Linked DNA regions of Homo sapiens: region 2 is linked to region 1. A link means that fine-mapping ties the variant in region 1 to the expression of a gene that starts in the linked region. Tissue or cell type: testis. Region 1 holds a variant in brackets; the other region holds the start of a gene. All regions are shown on one strand. Distances are between the middles of the regions.

Region 1 (8,344 bases):
TTATTCCATTCGAGTCCATTCGGTGATTCCTTTTGATTCCTATTGAAGATGATTCCATTCAATTCCATTCAATGATACCATTCGATACCATTCGTTGCTGATTCCATTTAAGTGCATTCCATGATACCATTCGATCCCATTCAGTAATGAATCCATTTGATTTCACTCGATGATTCCATTCAATTCCATTCTATGATGATTCCATTCGAGTCCATTTGATGATTCCATTTGACTCCATTTGATGATGATTCCATTCAATGATTCCATTCAATTCTATTCGATGATGATTCCATTCGATATCATTCGATGCTGATTCCATTCAATTCCATTCGATTATTCCATTTGATTCCATTCACTGATTCCATTCGATTACATTTGAGGATGATTCCTTTCGATTCCATTCGATGATTCCATTCAATTCTATTCGATGATGATTCCATTCGATTCCATTCGATGATGACTTCATTCGATTCCATTTGATCATTACATTTGATTCCATTCGATAATGATTGTGATCGATTACGTTAGATGATTCCATTCGAATCCATTCGATTATTCCATTTGATTCCATTTGATAATGATTCCATTCGAGTCCATTCAATGTTTCCATTCGAGCACATTTGATAATTCCATTTGAGTCCAATCCATGATTCCATTCGAGTCCATTCGATCATTCCATTTGAGTTCATTCGATGATGATTCAATTCGAGTCCATTTGATAATTCTTTTTGAGTCCATTCGATGATGATTCCATTCAAGTCCATTCGATGATTGTATTCGATTCCATTCAATGATGATTCCATTCGAGTCCATTCGATGATTCCATTTCATTTCATTCGATGATGATTCCATTCAATTCCATTGAATGATTCCATTCGATTCCATTTGATGATGATTCCGTTCAATTCCATTCGATCATGATTCCTTTCGATTCCATTCGATGATGCTTCCATTTGATTTCGTTAGATGATTCTATTTGATTCCATTCGATGATGATTCCATTCTATTCCATTAGATGACTCCATTCCATTCCATTCTATGATGATTCTATTCGACTCCATTTGATGATGATTCCATTTGATTCCATTTGATAACGATTCCATTCATGTCCATTCGATGATTCCACTTAATTCTATTGAATGATGATTCCAAATGAGTCCGTTAGATGAATCCATTTGATTCCATTGGATGATGATTCCTTTTGATGCCATTTGATGATTCCCATCAATTTCATTTGATAATGATTCCATTCGATTCCATTCGATGATTCCATTCAATGATGATACCATTCGATGCCGTTTGATGGTTCCATTCGATTCTGTTAGATGATTCCTTTCAATTTCATTCAATGATGATTCCATTCGAGTCCATTCAATGCTTACATTCGATTACATTCGATTCCATTCAATGATGATGGCATTCGAGTCCATTCAATGATTCCATTCGATTTCATTCGATGATGATTCCATTCGATTCCATTCAATGGTCATTCAATTCAAGTCCATTCCTTGATTCCATTCGAGTCCATTTGATGATGATTCCATTCGAGTCCATTTGATGATTCTATTTGATTCCATTCTCCGATGATTACATTCGAGTCCATTTGTTGATTCCACTCGATTCCATACGATGATGATTCCATTCGATTCCATTTGATGTTTCCATTCTATTCCATTCAATGATGATTCCATTCGAGTACATTAGATGATTCCATTTGATTCCATTCAATGATGATTCTATTCGTGCCCATTAGATGATTCCACACGATTCCATTTGATGATGATACTCTTCGAGTCCATTCGATGATTCCTTTCGATTCCATTCAATGATTATTCCATTCTATTCCATTCATTGGTGATTCCATACATTTCCATTCATTGATTCAATTCCATTCCATTTGACAGTGATTCCATTCGATTCCATTCGATGATTCCACTCGATTCCACTTGATGATGATTCCATTTGATTCCATTCTATGATTCCATTTGATTCCATTCTATCATGATTGCCTTCGATTCCATTCTATGATTCCATTCGTTTCCATTCGATGATGATTCATTTTGATTCTATTTGATGATTCCATCTGATTCTATTCGAGGATTCCAATCAATTCCATTGGATGATAATTCCATTCGAATCCATTCGATGACTTCATTCAAGTCCATGCAATGATTACATTCGAGTCCATTTGATGATTCCATATGATTCCATTTTATGAATCCATTAAAATCCATTTGATGACTCCATTCAAGTCTATTCGATAATTCCATTCGAGTCCAGTCGATTATTCCATTCGATTCCATTTGATGATTCCATTCGAGTCCATTTGATCATTACATTCGAATCCATTCAGTGAATCCATTGGATTTCTTTTGATGATGAACCAATTCGATTCCATTTCATGATGATCCTATTCGACTCCATTCGATGATGATTCCATTTGAGTCCATTCGATGATTTCATTGAATTCCATTCAATGATGATTCCGTTCGAGTCCATTCGATCATTCCATTCGAGTCCCTTTGTTGATTCCATCCAATTTCATTTGATGATGATTCCATTAGAGTCCATTCAATTATTCCATGCGATTACATTTGATGATTACATTGGAGTCCATCCGATTATTCCATTAGAGTCCAATCGATGATTCCATTCGATTCCTTTTGATAATTCCATTTGAGTCCATTCGATGATCATTCCCTTTGATTCCATTCAATGTTTCCGTTCGATTCTATTCAATGATTCCCTTTGATTCCTTTCCATGATGATTCCATTCCCTTCCATTCGATGATTCCATTTGATTCTATTCCATGATGATTCCTTTCGATTCCATTCGCTGATGATTCCATTTGATTCCATTTGATGACGACTGCATTCGGTTCCATTCGATGATGATTCCAAAGGATTCTACTCGATTTCTCCATTTGATTCCATTCGTTGATGATTCCATTCGGTTCCATTACATGATGATTCCATTAGGTTCCATTCAATGATGATTTCATTTGATTCCATTCGAAGATGAATCCATGCGATTCCATTCAATGATGATTCCATTCGATTCCATTCGATGATTCCATTTGGTTCCAATTGATGATTATTCCATTCGAGTAAATTCAATGATTCCATTCAATTTCATTCAATGATGATTCCATTTGATTCCATTCAATGATTCCATTCAAGTCCATTTGATGATTCCCTTCAATTCCATTCGATGATGATTCCATTCGAGTCCATTCCATGATTCCATTTGATTCCATTTGATGATGATTCCATTCAAGTACATTCGATGATTCAATTCAATTGCATTTGATGATTCCATTCTATTCCATTCGATGATGTCTCCATTTAAGCCCATTTGATGATTCCATTCGAGTCCATTTCATGATTCTGTTGGGTTCAATTCAAAGATGACTACATTGGATTCCATTCTATGATTCCATTCGATTCCATTCGTTGATGATTCTGTTTGATTCCATTCGATGATTCCATCCGCGTCCATTCGATGATTCCATTTGGGTCCATTCGATGATACCATCCTATTCCATTTGATGATGATTCCATTCGAGTCCATTCAATGATTCCATTCGATTCCATTCGTTTCCATTTGATAGTGATTCCATTCGAGTCCATTCGATGATTCCATTCTATTCCATTCCTTCATGATTCCATTTGATTCCATTCGATGATGATTCCATCTGATTCCCTTCATTCGTGTTTCCATTGGATTCCTTTCGATGATGATTTCATTCGACTCCATTCGATGATGATTCCATTTGATTTCATTCGATGATTCTGTTCGTTTCCATTCGATGATGACTCCATTCTAATCCAATCGATGTTTCCATTCGATGTCATTCGATGATGACTCCATTTTATTCCATTTGATGATTCCATTGGATTCCATTCGATGATGATTTCATTCGATTCCATTCAATGATGATTCCATTGGTGTCAATTCGATAATTACATTTGATTTTATTTGATTATGATTCCATTTGCGTCAATTTGATGATTCCATTCGATTCCATTCCATGATGATTCCATTGAAGCCCAGTCGATGACTGCATTCGAGTTCATTTGATGATTCCATTCGATTCCATTTGATTATGATTCCATTCAATTCCATTCAATGATGACTCTGTTCGGTTCCATTTGATGATGAATCCATTCGATTCCTTTCAATGATGATTTCATTCAGTTACATTCGATGATGATTCCATTGGATTCCATTCGATGATGATTCCATTGTAGTCCATTCGATGATGATTCCATTTGATTTCTTTTGATGATTCCATTTGAGTCCATTCGATGATGATTCCATTCTATTCCCTTCAATGATTCCATTCAATTCCATTCGACGATGATTCTATTCGATGCCATTTGATGATGATTCCATTCTATTCCATTCAGTGATGATTCCATTTGTGTCCATTCGATATTTCCATTCGATTCCAATTGATGATTATTCCATTCGAGTCCGTTAGATGATTCCATTTGATTCCATTCGATGATGATTCCATTCGGTGCCATTCGATTATTCCATTTGATTTCATTCAATGATGATTCCATTGATTTCTTTTTGATTATTCCTTTCCATTCCATTTGATGATTATTCCATTCGAGTCCATTCGATGATTCCATTCGATTCCATTCGATGGTGACTCCATTCGTGTCCATTCGAAGATTCAATGCAATTTTATTTTATGATGGTTACATTCGATACTATTCAATGATTCCATTCGATTCCATCTGATGATGATTCCATTCGAGTCCATTCCATGATTCCATTCAATTCTATTCGATGATTATTCCATTCTAGTCCATTAGATGATTCCATTCGAGTCCATTCGATGATTCCATACGATTCAATTCAATGATGATTCCATTCGAGTCCATTTGATGCTTCCATTCGAGTACATTTGGTGATTCCTTTCAAGTCCAATTTTTCATTCCATTCAATTCCAATT[G/A]ATGATGATTCCATATGATTCCATTCGATGATGATTCCATGTGATTCCATTCAATGATGATTGCATTCTAGTCCATTCAATGATTTCATTCAATTCCATTCGATGATGATTCCATTCAATTCCATTAATTGGTGATTCCATTCATTTCCATTCATTGATTCCATTCCATTCCAATCGACAATGATTCCACTAGATTCCATTAGATCATTCCACTCGATTAAACCTGACGATGACTCTATTCAATTCTATTCGATGATTCAATTTGATTCTATTCGATGATGATTCCATTCAATTCCATTCTATGTTGATTGTGTTCAATTCCATTCAATGATTCCATTCGAGTCCATTTGATGATTCTGTTCAATTCCATTCCATGATGATTCCATTAGAGTCCATTCTATGATTCCGTTCGATTCCATTTGATTCCATTCAATGATGATTGCATTCGTTTCCATTCGATGATTCCATTCGATTCCATTCGATGTTGTTTCCATTTGAGTACATTCGATGATTCCATTCGAGTCCATTCGATGATTCCATACGATTCAATTCAATGATGATTCCATTCGAGTCCCTTCATTGACTCCATTCGTTTCCATTCTCTGATGACTGCATTCGGTTTCATTCAATGATGATTCCAACGGATTACATTCGATTTCTCCATTCGATTCCATTCCTTGCTGATTCCATTCGATTCCTTTAGATGATGACTCCACTAGATTCCATTCGATGATGACTTCATTAGATTCCATTCGATAAGGATTCCATTCCATTCTATTCAATGATGATTCTATTCAATTCCATCTGATGGTGATTGCATTCGTTTCCATTTCATGATTCCATTCGATTCCATTCAATGATGATTCCATTCGAGTCCATTCAATGATTCCACTCAAGTCCATTTGATGTTTCCTTTTGATTGCATTTGATGATGATTCCATTTGAGATCATTCGATGATTCCATTCAATTCCGTTCGATGATTATTCCATTCGAGTCCTTTCGATGATTCCATTCAATTCCATTCAATGATGATTCCATTCGATTCCATTCAATAATTCCATTCAAGTCCATTCTATAATTCCATCTGTTTCCATTCGATGATGATTCCATTCGAGCCCATTCGATGATTCCATTCGATTCCATTCCATGATGATTCCATTGAAGCACAGTCAATGATTGCATTCGTGTCCATTTGATGATTCCATTCGATTACGATTCCATTCAATTCCGTTTGATGATGACTCTGTTCGGTTCCATTTGATGATGAATCCATTCGATTCCTTTAAATGGTGATTCCATTCAATTACATTCGACGATGATTCCATTCAATTACTTTTGATGATGATTCCATTTGATTCTATTCGATGATGATTCCATTTGATTTCATTCGATGATTTTATTTGATTCCATTCGATGATGATTCCATTATCTTCTGTGCGATGATTCCATTCGATTCCATTCAATGACGATTCTATTCGATTTGATTTCTTAGTGATTCCATTCGATTCCATTCGGTGATGAATTCATTTGTGTCCATTCGATGTTTCCATTCGATTCCATTCAATGATTATTCCTTTTGTGTCCATTAGATGGTTCCATTTGATTCCATTCGATGATGATTCCATTCAGTGCCATTCAATTATTCCATTTGATCTCAATCGATGAAGATTCCATTGATTTCATTTGATTATTCCTTTCCATTCCATTAGATGATTAATCCATATGAGTCTGTTTCATGATTCCATTCGATTCCATTCAATGATGACTCCATTCGTGTCCATTCCATGATTTATTGCAATTTCATTTGATGATTATTACATTTGATTCTATTCGATGATTCCATTCGATTCCATTTGGTGATGATTCCTTTCGAGTCCATTCGATAATTCCATTCGATTCCATTTGATGATGATTCCATTAGAGTCGATTCGATGATACCATTCAATTCCATTCGGTGGTGATTCCATTTGATTCCATTCGATGATGATTCCTTTCGAGTCCATTCAGTGATTCCATTCAAGTCCATTCGTTGATTCCTTTTGATTCCATTTGATGATGATACCAATTGAGACCATTCGATGATTTCATTTGATTTCATTCTATGATGATTCCATTCAGTTCCATTCGTTGATTCCATTCTATTCCATTCATTGATGATTACATTTGAGTCCATTCGATGGTTGCATTCGACTCAATGTAATGATTCTATTGGGTTCAATTCGATGATGATTACATTGGATTCCATTCGATGATGATTACATTGGATTCCATTCAATGATTCCATTCGATTCCATTTCTTGATTATTCCATTCGAATCCTGTCAATGATGATTCCATTTGATTCCATTCTTTGATGATTCAATATGATTCCATTCGATGATGATTCGATTTGATTCCATTTGATGATGATTCCATTCGATTCCATTCGATGATGATTCCATTCGATTTCATTTGATGATTCTATTCGATTCCATTCGATGTTGATTCAATTCTAATCCATTCGAGGCTTCCATTCGATTCCATTGGATGACGATTCCATTCAATTGAATTCTATGATGATTCCCTTTGATTGCATTTGACGATTACTCCATCTGAGTGCGTTCGAAGATTACATTTGATTCCATTTGATCATGATTCCGTTCGAGTCCAATCAAAGATTAGATTCGATTCCATTTGATGATGATTCCATTCGAGTCCAATCAAAGATTAGATTCGATTCCATTCGTTGATGATTCCGTTCAAGTCCAATCAAAGATTAGATTCGATTCCATTCGATGATGATTCCATTCAAATCCATTCGATGATTCCATTCCATTCCATTTGATGATGATTCTGTTCAATTCCATTTGATGATGATTCCATTCAATTCCATTCGATGATGTTTCCATTTGATTTCATTCGATGATGATTCCATTTGAGTCCATTCAATGTTTCCATTTGAATCCTTTTGATAATTGTTTTAATTATATTCGATGATGATTCCATTCGTGTCCATTCGTTGTTTCCATTTGATTCCATTCAATCATGATTCCATTCCGGTCCACTAGATGTTTCCATTCAATGATGTTTCTATTGCAGTGCAATAGATGATTCCATTCAATTCCATTCAATGATGATTCCATTCTATTCAATTCTATGGTGATTCCATTCGGATTCATTTGATGATTCCTTTGGATACCATTCGATGATGATTCCATTCTATTCCATTCAATGATGATTCCATTCATGTCCAATAGATCATTCCATTTGATTCCATTCGATGATGATTCCATTCTATTCCATTCGATGATGATTCCACTCGTGTTAATTAGATGATTCCTCTCTATTCCATTCGATGATGATGCTATTTGATACCATTCTGTGATTACATTTGAATC
Region 2 (8,344 bases), 460 kb after region 1:
AAAAAAAACTAAAACAAAAAAACAAAAGCCGGGCGCGATGGCTCACGCCTGTAATCCCAGCACTTTGGGAAGTCGAGGCGAGTGGATCACGAGGTCAGGAGATCGAGGCTAGCTTGACCAACATGGTGAAACTCTGTCTCTACTAAAAATAGAAAAGTTAGCTGGCGTGGCGGTAAGCGCCTGTAATCCCAGGTACTAGGGAGGCTGAGGCAGGAGAATCGCTTGATCCTGGCAGGCGGAGGTTGCAGTGAGCCAAGATTGCACCACTCCACTCCAGCCTGGGCGACAGAAAGAATTTGCTAGGCCATGAGGGCTCTACTCTCATGAATGAATTAATGTCGTTATTTCCAGAATGAATTAGTTGTCGTGAGAGTGGTTCCATTATAAAAGTAAGCTCTCTGGTGTACACCTTCTGTCCTCGTTATGCCTTTGACCATTTTGTGACGTGGAAATATGATTCTCATCAGATGGCAATGGCATGTTCTTGGACTTTCAGCCTCTAAAGAAATGAGCTAAGTAAACTTCTATTCTTTATAGTTTACCCACTCTAGGATATTCTGTTTTTGAAGCAGAAAATGAACTGAAACATTCACAAATGTCTAAAGAGATTAACAAATTTACCAGTATATTTTACATAAGAAATTTTTTAGATTTAAGGGCATGCATAAGTTGCTGGTTAAATAATAAAAAAATACTATGCCAATAATAACTAAAAGAGTATATTAGTGGCTATATTTATATAAGACAAAATAGACTTCTAGAAAAAAATCTGTCAGGAGATATAGAGAAGTTGACTATATAATGATAACAAGCTGATCTGTCAAAAGGCTATAACTATATATGAACCCAACATTGGAGCACATAAATATATAAACATATGTATATATGTATATAATATAATAATAGTATGTCTATATAATATTTATATAAGAATGTATTTTATATATGACTGTAGAAAAAAACATAATTATTATCGTAATAGAAGATGCTATTACTCTACTTAAAACGTTTTAAGTAGTAAGAAAACAATGTACTTGCAAAGCACTATAGAACAAGTGCACCTAACAGTGATAAACAGAATATTTCATTCAACAGTATTTGAATACACATTCTTCTTGAGCACACATGGAATATTATCCAGGATATATCGTATGTTGGGCCAACAACAACAAGAAAATCTCTAAAAATTTAAAAAGATTAAAATTAATGAACTTTTTAAATTACAGTTTTTTAAAACTAGAGATCAATAAGAGAAAAAAATTTAAAAACTCACAAATATGTGGATATTAAACAACATATTTCTGAAAAACACATGGTCAAAGGGGAAAAGAAAAAAGAAATCACAAAGTATCTTGAGAAAAGTAGAAATAAAAACACAACATACAACAACTTCTGGGATGCAAAAAAGCAGTTCTAAGACAAAAGGTAACACTGATATATTTCTATAATAAGAAGAAAGAAAGATCTCAAATAAGCAGCATGACTTTGATTTGCAAAAACCTTGAAAAAAACTAATTACTCTCAATGTTAACACAATACACAAAATAATAAAAAAAGAACAGAGATTCAATAAAAACTTGAAAGACAACAAAAAACATAAAAGCAGATAATAATTTACATATGAAAGTTATCTAAATTAAATAATTTAAAAAATGAGAAAATTTTCTTTTTTATTTTCAAATTGAAAGATTAAATCTCTTATTTTTATTTTGTGTTTATGCTTACAATAAACTGGTTGCAAAATTTTATCCTGAACTCTTAGACATTCTATTTCCAGTAGGGTTTGTATTTAGGCACATGGGTTTGTGAAAGAGGGTTTGTGGAGAAGAAAAAAGCAGACTAAGAGAAAGTGATACAAAAAAACCCATGAGTAGGGAACAGTGCATAGTTGGTGAAAGGACTGGTTAGTGCTATAGACACTGGCACACACAGGGTAACTCTGATTTCTAAATGTGTGTATGCAGGCAGATGAGATGGACAGAGGGTCGAGAAGCCTAGGCTACTGGAGAAAATAGGTCACGGTGCAGATGCAAGATCTGGGCATAGAAGTAAGCCATGAGTCCACTGGGCACTTATGTAGCATATTAGTGGAAAACTCTAGAAGGAGAGGTTCTGTCAGCACAGTTTCTCAGGGTGATGCCTTGTCATGGGAGGGGTGTATCTACATCATTGCCTAGTGTGTATGTGTGTGAGTGTGCAGGAATCACTTTATAGCAGCAGGGTGAGGAGAGGAGTCTTCCTTCAGAACTCCATCCCTTTTAATCCTCAGTTCCCTCTGACCCCTAGATGGGACCTATTGTCACAAGACAATTCACACTGTGACAGCATGTGTGTAAAAGAATAGAGTCTTTATTCCCCAAAAGACCCACAGTATACCTCCAGCCGAGGCTGCTGTGATGTCTTTGTTCTAACACCAAATACATGGAGTTTGTTGAACACCAACCAATTCATCAACACCAACTGGGAGTTTAACATCTTAATTCTGACACCACCCAGAGTTGGCATAGACTCCACAAGTTCAGGACTCAGTCCCACAGCACCATCCCCACTGCACATGCCTGTCACAACGAACATGGGCACGTCTATGCTTCTGAGCATCTATCTATAAATCATAAGCTCCCATAACCCTTTTCATGAAGTTTAATAATTAATAAAACTACTCACAGAACTTGGCAAAACATTTCACCTATGCTTGCCAGGTTATTATAATAAATACAGTTCAGAAAAAGCCAAATGCAAAAAATGGATACAGCAAAGAAAAGCATAAAAGAAAGACAGGGTGGGTAGTGAGTCCTGGTAAATAGTGACATTTAAGAAAACTCTCTAATTCTTTGTGTTCTGTGAGAAAACTTACTGCAGAGAAACACCTTTACCATTGTTACCTAGATGGTACATCCTGTTTTAGATATCACAGATTCATAGATTCTCCACATTCCCATTTGCTCCTCATAAACAATTAAATACTTTTGTCTTCAGAGTTCAGAAGAAAATACTTGTTAGGCACAGGTTGCTTGTTTCTTTTTTCCCCCGGGACCCTGGCCTCTGCTCCGTCTTCAGTCTGAGTAAACATATAACCATACAACCCCTTTTATGCCCCTCCCAAGAACAGGCTGATTTCAGGGTGAAACCATCTCTAATCTTGAAGGATTTTGTCACTCTCCATGGGGCCCTTCCTCTCCCACCCTTCTTTCTAATATACCTTGCTCCTCCATTTCAAAGACAGCTCTTTTCTGCCTAGTATTTTAGATGTTTGCAGATATTATGCTTGATGCTTCCACCATTGCAATACTTCTTTAGGTTAAAGTCTCTGAATTTATTTTATTTGAAAATATCTAGAAACAGCCCCAGGACAATAACAATTACACCCTCACAGAGAACATCTCAGTCGTCCTCCTATCTCACATGACACTGTATCTGCCTGTGGATCTCCACAGTTGAGAAGGTGATATACATTTTGGCCCAGCTCACAGGCACTATGATAAATCTTATACATGAGCCAAGCCAAAAGGAGAGATTTTGACTCTCATAGCTAGGCTTCAAGCAATGGGTAAAGTCCTGGATCTTCTACTTTTATGAAGGTCAAAGGATTATAAAACCCATGTGTGTTGAATATACCCCTTGAGTGGTACAGAGAGTGTCATAACAGGACCCAGTTCACAGGTGAGATATAGAGATCTGTATGGCCACAGAACCAAAAGTAGAAATTGTCACATGCCCACATGTACATAACCCACAACTGAGGTTCTAAGCTCACACCCATGGGCAGGGGGAAGTTGGAGTTGTGACTCTCACAGGTGGATCCAGTCCACAGGCGAAATGGTGACTCTCTCACCAAGATTCAGCACAGCATTGAGGCTGTGACTCCCTTACCAGGACATAGCTTGGAGAAGGGATTGGGGCTCTCATGTGAGGATGCAGTCCACTGTTGAGATTGTGACTCAAGTACTTGGACCCAACGCAACAGGAGTTCTACCTGGAGTGGAGAAATGTTTGGATTTGGAGGTCTCATTACTGGGCCTTCCCACAGGTATAATTGTGACATACAACTAGAACCTTAGTGATTTCACAGTGCTTCTGGGCTCAGCACAGATATATCTTGTGACTTATACCTGGAATAAACACCTAGGTGATGTGACTATTTTGCCTAGACACTTCCTTCAAAGGAATTGTGATGTATCTCTCTACTTTGCACCTAGGTGATATAAATCTTTTCCCCTACTTAGACCCTGCTCACAGGTAAGGTTATAACATATCACTAAGCCTGGTACTTAATGATGTGACTCTCTGATCCTGTTTGTGCCCTGCCCTCAAGAAGCATTGTGACATCACTGGGCTAAGCAACAAGGTAATCTTGCTTATGTGTGTCTTCTGTCTAGGCCATGTGCACAGGGGGCATTGAGAAATATCTCTGGACCAATCACCTAAAAGATGTGACTCTCCTCACTTGCCTGGACTCTGCTCAGAATAGAGATTTCGACACATCAGTGGGTTCAACACCTAGGTGATGCGGCTCTTCCTTCTTTTCTGGGCTCTTCCATCAGAGAAGATTGTGACATTTTCTGAGCCCAGCACTCAAGTGAGGTGACTTGTCTCCCTGGACTCTCCCCACAGACAGCATTGTGAAATATCTTTGGGATCATCACCTAGGTAATGTGAATCGCCTCTGCTTCATGGGCTTTGCACTCAAAAGGGCTTGTGATTTTCATGGGAAGCACCACCCAAGTGATTTGATTCTTTTGGATGGGGGGCTGGGATCTGCCAACAGGAATAATTTTTACATATTGCTTGGCTAAACCCCTAGTTAATAGGACTCTTATCTCCTACTTGGGCCCTCCCTGCAGTGTGTTTTGTGTCATATCTTTGGGCTGAGCACGGAGGAGTTGAGACACTCCTTCCTTGGCACTCCCCAAAGGGAATATTATTACATATCTTTGGGCCAGTCACATAGGTGATGTGACTCTCCTCTATTGCCTGGAAACTTTTTACAGTTGGGATTGTAACATATTGCTGGGTCCAGCACCAGGTGATGTTATTCTTATCCCAGGGCCCAGCCCACAGAAGAAATTGTGGCATATCTCTGGGCCCATCACCTAGGTGATGTGGTTCTGCTCTTCTGCCTGGACACTTTCCCCAAGAGTAATTGGGACATATTGTTGGGCCCAGCTCCCAGGTGATGTAACTATCCTGCCTTGGCTCTGTGCACAGGGGGGATTGTGACATATTTCTTGGCCAAGCAGCTGGGTGATATGACTCTCCTGAATGGGCCCTGCTCCCAGAGAGGATTGTGACCCATCACTGGGCCAATCATGTGGGTGATGTGTTTCTGCTCTGTTGCCTGGGCTCTGGCCAAAGTAAGAATTGTGACATATAGCTGACCCAGCACCCAGGTGATTAAACTTTTGTGACTGGTCCCTGCTCACAGGTAAAATTGTGACATATATATAGTCACAGGTTAAAAGTGAAATGATGACTGTCATACGTGGGATCCAGCTAAGAGAAGAGATTTTGACCCTCATAGCTAGGGTTAGGGCAACAGTCATGGTCCTTGGTCTCTTACTTTAACAAAGGTCATAGTGTATTATGACACCAAAGCACATTGTATAAAGCCCTCAGGTGGTACAGAGTGTGTCATAACAGGACCCACACAAAGGTGAGGCTGTGACTCTCATATGTACATCCAGCTGACAGAATTGTCATCCTCACACATGGCCAGTACTCAGTGGTGAGGTCCTAAATCTCATGTGCAAACGCAATACAGATTTGGAATTGTGACTGTCATACATAGATGCAGCCACAGGTGAGATAGTGACTCATTTTTGAACCCATCTCACAGGCACAGCAATAAAGCTTATACCTGGGCCCAGTCAACAAGAGAAATTCACAATCCTGGACATTTTCCAGCTAAAGGTATTAGAGTCAACCCGTCTTGTGGGTTGAGTCCAAGTATGCAAGTTAATCACAACAGTGGAGTAAATCAGTACACAAAAGCCCAAATCTCACCTGAAGACTATGTTTTAATAGGGAAATTACAGTCCCCAGGTGTTCTAAATCCTGGTCTTGGAGTTATCATCCCATCTGTGGATTGGATTGATTTATGAGGTTCACATTTCCAACTTTATGGCCTCTTGACATGTGATTCAGAACCTCAACAGTGGGCTTTGTTCATGTCGGAGGGTGACAATCCTTACTTGTGGCTGGGTGTGCATACAACTGCCACATTTTCACCTATGTGATGAACTACATTATGGCATTTTTTGTAGCACTTGATGGCTTTATACAATGTGCACGAAGGTCAAAACACTCCATGACCACCCTACAAGTTGAAGACCCAGGACCTTCATTTTTGCCATAAGACTAACTACAAGAGTCAAAATGTTTTCAGGTATGAGTCATCATCCCACCTGTAAGCTGTGCCTATGTATATTTCACAATTCCAATTGTGGAGAGAGACAAGGCACCAGAGTCACATCACCTGGATGCTGGCCACAGATATGTCACAATTCCCACTTTAGCCAGGATCTAGGCAGCAGAGGAGCCCCAACACCTAGGTGATTGGCCCAGTGAGAGGTCAAAATCCCCCCTTGGAGCAAGAGCAATTCAGGAGGGTCATATGACCTAGGTACTGGAAATAGCAATGTGTCAAAATGCCCTCTGTGGGCAGGGCCAAGGCAGGACAGTTACATAACCTGGGAGCTGGGCCTGGTGATACGTCGCAATGCCTCTTGGGGGCAGGTTCAGGCAGGAAGGCAGAGTTACATCACCTAGGTGATAGGCCCAGAGAGATTTCACAATACCTTCTCTAATTAGAACCCAGGCAGAGAAGTTACATCATTTGCATTAAGGGCCCAGTGATATGCCTGTCACAATCTCAACTAAAGGCAGGGCCTGGGCAGGAAAGAAGAGTCACTTCACTTTGAGGATTGCCCCAGAGATATACCATAATTTCCCCTGAGGGCAGGGCTCATGCTGAAGAGTCATATAAATAAAGTGCATGGTCCAGGTGTATGTGACAATCTCAACTGTACACTGGGCCCAGGCAAGAAAGTAAAATCAACCAGGTGCTGGGAAAGGGTATATATCACAATCACACCAGAAGAAAGTTTTCAGGATAAGATTCAAAATCCCACTAATGTCCCAGCTTCACTTATGACAGTCAACATATCTTGTGAGATGTGTTCAAGTACTCGAGTCACAACCTCAACAGTGGACTTGATCAGTGCATGAGAATCTGAACTCCTCTTGCAGACAGTGTCCCAGTAGGGGAGTAACAGCCTCACAGGCGTTCTGAATCTTGGTGTGAGAGTCACCATCCTACCTGTGGACTGCATCCATGTGTGAGAGTCACAGTTCTAACTTTTGACTGCCTCTGAATGTGAGATTCAGAATGTTGTAAGTAGGCTGGGTTTTTGTGGGAGGGTGAGAATTCACATATGTCAGCCAGGTGTGCATATGAGAGTCACAATCTCACCTGTTTGCTGGTTCCTGTTATGACAGTCTGTGCCACCTGATGGTTTTACATGGTATATGTGCACAATCTGCTTTGAGATTTTTGTGCCTTCCTAGGTATGTGTTACAACCTCAAATGTATAATTATGCCCACTGTCCTAAGACCAGGCATGACCGTCAACATCTCTCTTGTTTATTGGGTCCAGTTATGAAAACCATTTATGCCCCTGTGACCTGGGTACAGAAATGGGTCAACATCCCTCCTGTGGTTCAATCCACATGTGACAGGCACAATTCCAACAGTGGACTGTATATTTCGGTGAGGCTCAGGAACTCATTATTCTGCTCTGTCCATGTGTATGGGTGACAATTGTAACAGTCAGCTGGGTGTTCATACAATAGTCACAATCTCAGTGTTGTGCTGGGTACTATTAAGACATTCACTGTACCATCTGAGGGTTTTACACAATATGCGTGTGTGTGGTAATCACCTGTTATTATTATTTTTTTAAAGTAGAAAACTCAGGACTTTATTTTTTGGCTTAAGCCTAGCTGTGAGAGTCAACAGCTCTCTTATTGGCTGGGTGCAGGTATAAGAGTCATCACTGGGCCTGTAAGCTGGGTATAGATATGACTCACCATCTGATCTTTGGCCAGATTCACATTTGCCCATCAATATTCTAACTGTGTATTTTGTCCTCATATGAAAGTTAGGACCTCACCAGTAAGTTTGGTCAATTTGTGAGGGAAACAATGCTAATTGTCATCTGGGTGTGCCTATTGAATCACTATTTTACCTCTGTGCGGGGCCCTGATATGACACACTCTATATTATCCAAGGGCTTTATAAAATATGCATGAGTGTTGTAATGTTATGTGACCTTTCTACATGTAGAAG

What was found. PIP is the estimated chance that this variant, and not a neighbour inherited with it, causes the effect.
Region 2: LINC01566 starts here. The variant in region 1 is the best candidate, but not a certain one, in a credible set for the expression of LINC01566 in testis (GTEx, PIP 0.57).

Annotation. Positions count from the first base shown.
Region 1 is chr16:34,895,304-34,903,647 of GRCh38, forward strand. No RefSeq gene overlaps it. Among named protein-coding and RNA genes, the nearest start is that of LINC02184, 81 kb to the right of the region's middle. The variant G/A (reference allele first, on the strand shown) is at 4,968.
Region 2 is chr16:35,359,184-35,367,527 of GRCh38, forward strand. It overlaps LINC01566 (long intergenic non-protein coding RNA 1566), which reads left to right and starts at 4,233. Exons shown (of 7, transcript NR_027080.2): 1 at 4,233-4,345.